2 linked regions of the Homo sapiens genome follow. The protein of the gene in region 2 purifies or fractionates together with the protein of the main gene of each other region. This does not show direct contact. Each region holds a gene or a part of one and is shown on either strand. Other genes may lie near its edges.

Region 1 (4,392 bases), on a different chromosome or scaffold from region 2:
GTGTTCATATTTATTATTTCTTTTTCCTCACAGCAACCCCAGTACCAAGGACACAGGCCAGGGGTGGGGAGGAGCAGGAAAATGTTTACTAAGGGTCAACTAAGTGCAAGGCGATTTACCCACATTATCTCTTTTAATCCCTTAACAATCCTTACAGGTGGACGTTTTAATAATCCCCATTTCACGACTGTGGAAATTAGACCTCAGTAAGATTTCATAACCTGCTGAAGGACACACAGGTATTAAGTAGTAGAGATGGGTTTTGAAGCTGGTGTCTCTGACTTTAAAGTCCCTACTGGTTCCATGACACCAAGTAAACAGATTTGCCTATTAACCACATTCCTCCAAGCTGCCCTGGGCAGGAGGTAATATAATACTTCCTGATTTCTTGCCCACCACATCTTCCACCAGACCACTTTGCCGTTATATAAAGTCTGTGGGCACAATTTAACAATGAATCACATGCCATCTTACCTGGTTACCTCATTGTTTCATTTACATTAGATTCCACAACAAGATTGGTAACATCCCCCTTTCCCCAGGCAGGAATTGTGTCATCTTAACCTCCCTGAGCCTCAGTATCCTCTTCTTTCAAATGTCTATCTTACAGGACTGTTGCAGAGATTAAATATCAGTTGTAAAGATGTTTGACATAATGTCTCGCACAAACTCTCCAGAAATATTTATTGCATCTCAACATCTTTTTCATCTCCTTCAACATGTCAGACAGGCCTGAGTGCCTGGGTTTGGCTATGCCAGTTCCTGTTGATTACTGATATAACAACGTTGGATCAGGAGTATTTTAGTGGGCAGATGTTGAATTTTCTGCCTTCCACCCACTAAAAGGTTTGCATCAAACCAGTCCAGGATAACTCATACTGGATCCCTGTCAGTTGATATAGTTAAGCTAATTCTACAGATAACAAAGAGTCTTGGGTACGTTTAGCTAGCAAATGCAGATCTGCCAAGACTCCAACCCAGTTCTTAAGGTATCTGGGTCTGGACTCCTTCCGCTCCACCAAGCCACCTTCCAAAGGTCTACCTGAAAATAACTAATGAGCAGAAACTATAGGGGGAAGGGGAAAAGACCCCTTATCTTGGTGTTTCTTGCTTTTCCTCGCAGCCCCGCCCTTTTTGCTTCGAAGGACGAGTTTTTCCTGAATTCACAATACTTTTGCATTGAAGATGTCCGGTCCCTTTAAGGTCTTGGGTGACGTAATGACTAGCCCCGCCCCCTCTCTTCTCGCTTCTCAGCCCTGCCCACTTCTTTTTGTCCTCAGCCAATTAGCGGCCCAACGCCCCTTCCGCGCCTCATCCGGGTTCCCGGGACGGGAAAGTGGCGTGGTAACCAGGCAACTACTGATCAATCCCCTCCCCGGCTGATTTGCGCATCAGGTAGTCGCCGCTCTACTCTCAACGGTGGCGAGCTGCAGTTGCCAAGTGCCCCGTCCCCGTTGCCATAACAGCAGTACACAACCCCTCCTTCCCCTCGCCCGCTTGCTAAACAGTCCTTCCCTCTCGGGACCAAGGGCCTCTCCAGAACTGCTTCTGATTGAGCAGAAACAGGGTCTGAGCCCCTTTGCTAAGGCGAATTGAGTGGGAGGGTTGGAGACTGCGCTTTAGGCTGGTGTACCAGAGGGCCCAAGGAAATTGGCCCAGTGGGGAGGGAAAAGTAGAAGAAATGAATGGAGCAGGGATTACGGATGGCGCAATGGGAGCTGAGAGGAGAGGAGGAGGAATTGGTAGGGAAGATTGGAGAGCATGGCTTAAGGGGGAGGTGGGAAGAATGGGGGAGAGGGAAGCCCAGGAAATAGGGACACCCGGCTGCTGGAGGAGAGCTGGAGTCACTGTGAAGGACAGGAAAGGCCTGGGGGTGTGGGTGACATCCTGAAGGGAGGGGGTCCTCAGTGGAAAGTGTGAAGTGGGAGTTGAGAATCAAAATGAGATGTTCACAGGGATAAGGAAAGAAGCCTAGAGTTGGTGGGTCAGAAGTCATGGGGGTGATGGGAGTGGCACGTGTCAATGACGATGAAGGAGCTGAAGGCTGGCAGAAGCTGATGAGACCTTCTTTTTCAGGAGGAGGACTGAGCTTATCTGACTCCAGAGCTTTCAGGAGGGAAGAAAGATGTCAGATGAAGATGATCTAGAAGACTCTGAGCCAGACCAGGATGATTCTGAGAAAGAAGAGGACGAGAAGGAGACAGAGGAGGGGGAGGACTACAGAAAAGAGGGGGAAGAGTTCCCTGAGGAAGTGAGAGCCTGGACAAGGAGGGGTCCTAGGGCTGAAGGAGGGGGTTGGGCAGGGGAGAGACACCTTACTCCACTTCTACCTGCAGTGGCTGCCCACCCCCCTCACGGAGGACATGATGAAGGAAGGGCTTTCTCTGCTCTGTAAGACAGGCAATGGGCTGGCTCATGCTTATGTCAAGCTGGAGGTTAAAGAGAGGTGCGTTTTGGGGGGACCAGATGAGGACTGTGAGACTGTAGGGCCCCTATCTCCTTTCCCACTGTCATTCCTGGGTGTTCTGGTTGAGAGTTTGACTCTTCTCATGCCTAGTGGAAAGGGAAGGACAGAATTTACTTTTCAGGAGCTCTGAGACTTCTCCTATCAAAGCTGACCTGGGGAATTGGAGATTGAGAGTATATGGGGGGATTCCTGCTGGATTCCCTTATTTGTCTTTCAGAGTATGGGTTCTCTGTCCTTCACAGACACAGGTCTCTCTGCCCACTGTTAAGAACCCACCTACCTTCTCTTACCCTTCTTCTCCCCTACCATCTGTTGCCCATTCTTCTCCCCATTATAAGCCATCTCCATATTGCCTTCTGCTTTAGCAACTCTGCCAGTCCTCACTGGGTGCTTAACCCTAAACCTGGTTTCTTCTCCCTCTTCCATCTCCTAGGGACCTGACAGACATCTACTTGCTGCGCTCCTACATCCATCTGCGCTATGTGGATATTTCTGAGAACCACCTGACAGACCTGTCTCCACTCAACTACCTCACCCACCTGCTCTGGCTCAAGGCTGATGGCAATCGGCTGCGAAGTGCCCAGATGAATGAACTGCCCTACCTGCAGATTGCTAGTTTTGCTTATAACCAGATTACTGACACTGAAGGCATCTCTCATCCTCGTCTTGAAACCCTGAATCTCAAAGGTGGGTCTTTAGGATGGGCTACACAAGATTCTTTCCTTCCTAGCCTGAGGCCAACAGAAGTGGGCAGTATGGTCCTTGGCTAGGGCACATGGCAGTCTGCATTCATTCATTCATTCAGATACGCAATATGATTCATTATGACAGTTCTACATGCTAACCATATAGGATCCAATAAGACAAGGAACGTCCCTATTCTCATATAGCTTATATTCTAATTGGGAGAGACAAACAAGTAACAACAAACACAGTAAGTACATTCATGTAGCATGTTAAAAGGAGACAAGTGCCTTGGAAAAAATAGATCAGAGTAAGAGGAATGGGGGACACAGGTGGCAATGTCAAATAGATTGGTTAGGACAACCATCACTGAGAAGATGACATTTGAGCAAAGAATTGAAGAAGGAGAGGGAATTAGACATGTCAGCTGCTTCATTCACTCTTCAAAGGCTTAGGTGGATATGTCCATCAGGACCTTGGACTACCTACCACACCACTTGCCTCAGGGCTCCAGAGGTATTAAGTCTGGAGCTGGCCTTCCTCAGTATCTACCCTGCTTTGCGAATGGTAGGATGATTTAGAGGCTCCCCAAATTCAGGCTCTAATGCTGAGCATTTGGAGTGGCCCTTTGAGCTCTTGAAACCCTCCTCCCCAGGGAACAGCATCCACATGGTGACAGGTCTGGACCCCGAGAAGTTGATCAGCCTGCACACAGTGGAGCTTCGGGGGAACCAGCTGGAAAGCACCCTGGGAATCAATCTTCCTAAGCTGAAGAACCTCTACCTGGTAGCTCACTGGGTCAGAGGGTGGTGCAGGGAAGAGGGCACTGTCCTGGGGGTCAGGATGCCTGCTTTCTAGTAGGCTCAGCTACTAACTTCATCATTATGATAATAACTGGTATTATTATCAAGACCATAGTTGGTTCCAGATGCTGTGGAGATACACAGCCACCTAGCAGGGCTGATAATATATAATGTGTGGATAATACAGAGATAATTTACCTTGATACAGGTAGTAGCAAAATGGACCATAATTGAGGTACAAACATCAGTCTGTGGAAATGTTTTAGGAAAACCCTCCTCTCAGACTGGGTTTTTCTTCAGCTCTTACACTACCACCACAACAATCATCAACATACGACTTCCGGGACCAAAGGTGTGGGGGTTTCTCCCCATACACCAAGTAGTAGACACCAGCTGGGTGATCTCTAATTCGATTCACTGTCTACCTGGGGATGGCAT
Region 2 (3,820 bases):
CCTCCCAAAGTGCTGAGATTGCAGGCATGAGCCACTGTGCCAGGCCTTACTTAGGATTTTTTTCTTACTTCTCTTTTTTTTCCTATCATGCATAAGTCAGTATGCTCATTTCCCTACCCTTTCAAAACAAAAATTGTTAGAACTGAGGTTCCAGATGCCATAGAATGCAGTTATATCCTCTCTTTTAAGCTGAGAGAAAGAAAGACTTGTATGATATTTAACTTGGTTATCAGATAGAAATGTTGCAAGTAACATAAATAATATTAATAATTTAAAAATAATTGAGTACTACTCTCCTGCATTTTGAATTAACAGTCTGTCAAGACAAAATAATCATTTGAATATTTTCTCAGTAATCATGATCTTAATTTTAGTAGATATAAAATTGGTGAAGACAAAATACGAATTTTTGATAATAAGAATTTTCAGATCTCTACAACCTCCACCAGCATCACAAATGTGTGTGATATTAGTGAAGGTTTTATATACATATATATATATATATTTTTTTTTACTTGACGTGACTCCAAAAATTCTCTGTCAATGAAAGAATAAATATTCAAAAAAATATTCAAACTCTTTCAGACAATATACAGATATTCAGCATTATGCTGGGGAAAAACTCAGGCTCAGACTTGAAGGACAGGAATAAGAGGTTTAGCTGTGCTCCTTAATGGGCTAATGATCTTGAACAAGACTCTAAAATATTCAAAACTGTCTAATGAAACTGATTTTCTTCACAAAATGTAAGTTATTTAACTTTAGTTAATCTTAATTTACAAACAGCACAAATTATGGAATTGGCTTAGAGTTCAAATAAATAAGCCTTTTAAGTTTATATTTAATATTGTTTCCTAAAAATATATGAGGATATAAATTTATCTGTGAGAAAACTACACCTTTTTAATTTGTGTTTTATTATAACTAAAAACTTTACAACGGAAACTAAAATAGTATGTAGAAACACTTTGTAAACTATAATTTGAAAATATTATGTTTTTAAAACATAATTAAAAAAATTGTTTTGAAGTGATTGTTATGAAGCTGAAGGCAGATGTTTGAAGCCAATTTTTTTCTATGAACACAAAATTTACACCCAACAGTCACTTAGGGAACTTACAGCCATTCATAGGGACAATCTGCAAAACTTATATTGAAAAAACCAAAAGGATAAATTATAGTTTGTCATTCTATAGGTAATCTCGATATTTCAATAAGTGACAATATTTGAACAAAGTTTTAAAGAAGGTTTTTCTAGCTTTCTTTGATTAGGGAAGCACCCAGATGATTGAGAGACTTACCTGCTGGAAAGCAAAGATTGGGACCTCCAGCCATTGCGGTCTCTTTTTTTATTGAAACTGCGATTCCAGTCTCTGATGAATTTTGCCTCACAAACCAGATAACTGAGTGTGGCTGTGTCACTTAGAAGCTTAGAAATGGGTAAGAAGTTTGGGATCTTCATAAACTCAAATTCGAGATTTAAAATCATTGAGGATTTTCACCCAAGAGCAATTGAAAATTGCTAGTGGCTTGTAGCTTCTGTCAGTGTCACATATATCATCTATATTATCCTCATAAAAAATACATTTGAGAAATACTCGTGGTGCATAGCCATTTATTTAAACATTTCCTTCTGAAATTTGCTATTTTTAATAAATTGTGTAATGGGAATTTACTTTATGTTTTGGATTCCTGAAAAAAAGGAGCAAGCTGACATTGAGAAATTTAACATTTCCCGTTAAAAAAAAATTAAAATATCAGCTGGGCACGGTGGCTCACGCCTGTGATCCCAGCACTTTGGGATGCCGAGGTGGGCAGATCACCTGAGGTCAGGAGTTTGAGACTAGCCTGGCTAACACGGTGAAACCCCGTTTCTACTACAAATACAAAAAAATTAGCCAGGCGTGGCGGCAGGTGCCTGTAATCCCAGCCACTCTGGAGGCTGAGGCAGGAGAATCGCTTGAACCCAGGAGGCGGAGGTTGCAGTGAGCCGAGATTGCGCCATTGCACTCCAGCTTGGCCAACAAGAGCGAAACTCCATCTCAAAATAAATAAATAAATAAATAAAATATCAGGAATGTGTTCTTCCCATTTCTCAGTGCTCTTCAATTGGCAGTAGCAAATTTTCCAAAGTCACAAAGCCAGTTAGAAGAAGAGCCAGAACAACAACTTTCATTTTCAGACTCCCAGTTTCATGCTCTTTCGAGTATAACCTATTTGTGTAAGTGTAAAACCCTTTTCTATCTCCCAAACAAATTTTTTATAAAGTAATATTTTTATGGATGCAGTGTTATTAATGTGGCAGATACCTACATTTTAAAATGACTGTCCCTGAAGGCAACAAATTAGGAAGAATGATAAGTTACTAGAACATGTGTTAACTGATTTTATTCTATTTGGCACCATTTTCACTCTTTTTTAGATACTTTGCCTTCCAAAATCTTAAAATTTTATTTTTAACTATCTCTGTCTGTTTTTTTCCTCTATTTGGATTTGTGATTAATGCTACTAATCTCTTTCTTGCAAAAATTAAGAAGCCAGAAACCTACAATGCCACCTTAGAGAAAGATTCCATTATTATTTTAAACCCCCAGATCTGGATGTTTAACAAAGGGTTTAGTTGTTATAAACTCGTTTAGGGCAGAGACCATGTCATGTTCACCATTGCATCTCAGCACCTTACAGAATGCCTGGCACAGGGTCAAATGTGTGTGTTGAATGAATGCATGGAGCAGCCTTATGTGGAAGGTAAACAGGAATGCGGGGCAGATACTAATATCCCAGCTTTCTTGATACGAAAACCAAGGTAGAGGGAAGATAAGAGATTAGCCTATGTTTCTACAGCTACAGTAAAATGTGATGAAGTTCATGCTGGAATCCTGATACATCCATTAGTATTTAACATCACAGATTCTCATTCTAATGAAAGTTACATGCATCACTAACCTCAAATAATCATTCCTCTAAACTTTAGGATTTCTCCTTTTCATACATTAATCTGTACCTAAATCCCCAAATAACTAAATATTTCTTGATATAAAACTATGTTACCTAAAAATAGAAAATAACATTAGTATATAATTGTAGGCAATTCTGTTAATGAAATTTGTTGTTTAATTCTAATGCTCACTAAAGGGAAAATAGCTTTAAAACTGTACATAGGGAAAAGCTAATAGAGTTGCACATATCGGCTGGCCGTTCCATACATAGGCAACTTTTTACGCAGCATTAAAAGGCTTGCAGAGGGTAAAATTGGATAAATTAAGTTAAATATAGCATATTTAAATCTGAAGTTAATGTGGAATTTCACGACCCCCTTCACTGTTTACTCCACTTTGTACTTATATAAAATATTTGATCAAAATCTTACATCATAATTACATTAAGCTAGCCAACATAATAAATGGAAAAGTATCTCTAACATTAAACAAAGGGGCAAAAATATAAATTTTATACTACTCAAAAACAGGATGCATTTATTAGGCATACACTGCATGTCAGATACTGGGGATATAAAAGTAAAGAAGATACTTTCTCTGTCTTCCTGTTGCTCACAGCCTGGTTCAGGTGGAAACTCCTCAACCGCTTGTCCTGTCTAGGGATTTCCTTCTGCAAGAGCAGATCCTTTCTGGAATGCTTCCACTTTCTTCAAATAGAATTGTCATACATAAACTTTTGAAAAAATAACATTTGCATAGTGTTTTACTATCTTGAAATTAATCTCCTGTCATCCTTACAAGTCATGTTAGACCTATACAGAAAACATTATAATTCTATTTTTTAAACATCTGTGAACTGAGACAAGCTGAGTTACTTTAGA

What was found.
Region 1: the proteins of OSTN (region 2) and LRRC23 purify together in Homo sapiens (affinity purification with mass spectrometry; one large-scale study listed by BioGRID and IntAct). This does not show direct contact.

The regions. Positions count from the first base shown.
Region 1 is NC_000012.12:6,903,509-6,907,900, forward strand, and holds the start of LRRC23 (leucine-rich repeat-containing protein 23), read left to right. Parts: upstream 1-1,313; 5' UTR 1,314-1,567; intron 1,568-2,076; 5' UTR 2,077-2,125; coding exon 2,126-2,251; intron 2,252-2,336; coding exon 2,337-2,446; intron 2,447-2,900; coding exon 2,901-3,154; intron 3,155-3,806; coding exon 3,807-3,937; intron 3,938-4,392. UniProt on the Homo sapiens protein: Essential for sperm motility and male fertility. Plays an important role in the proper assembly of the third radial spoke (RS3) head and the bridge structure between RS2 and RS3 in the sperm flagella.
Region 2 is NC_000003.12:191,202,129-191,205,948, reverse strand, and holds part of OSTN (osteocrin precursor), read right to left. Parts: intron 1-3,820. UniProt on the Homo sapiens protein: Hormone that acts as a regulator of dendritic growth in the developing cerebral cortex in response to sensory experience. Induced in the brain following membrane depolarization and inhibits dendritic branching in neurons of the developing cortex.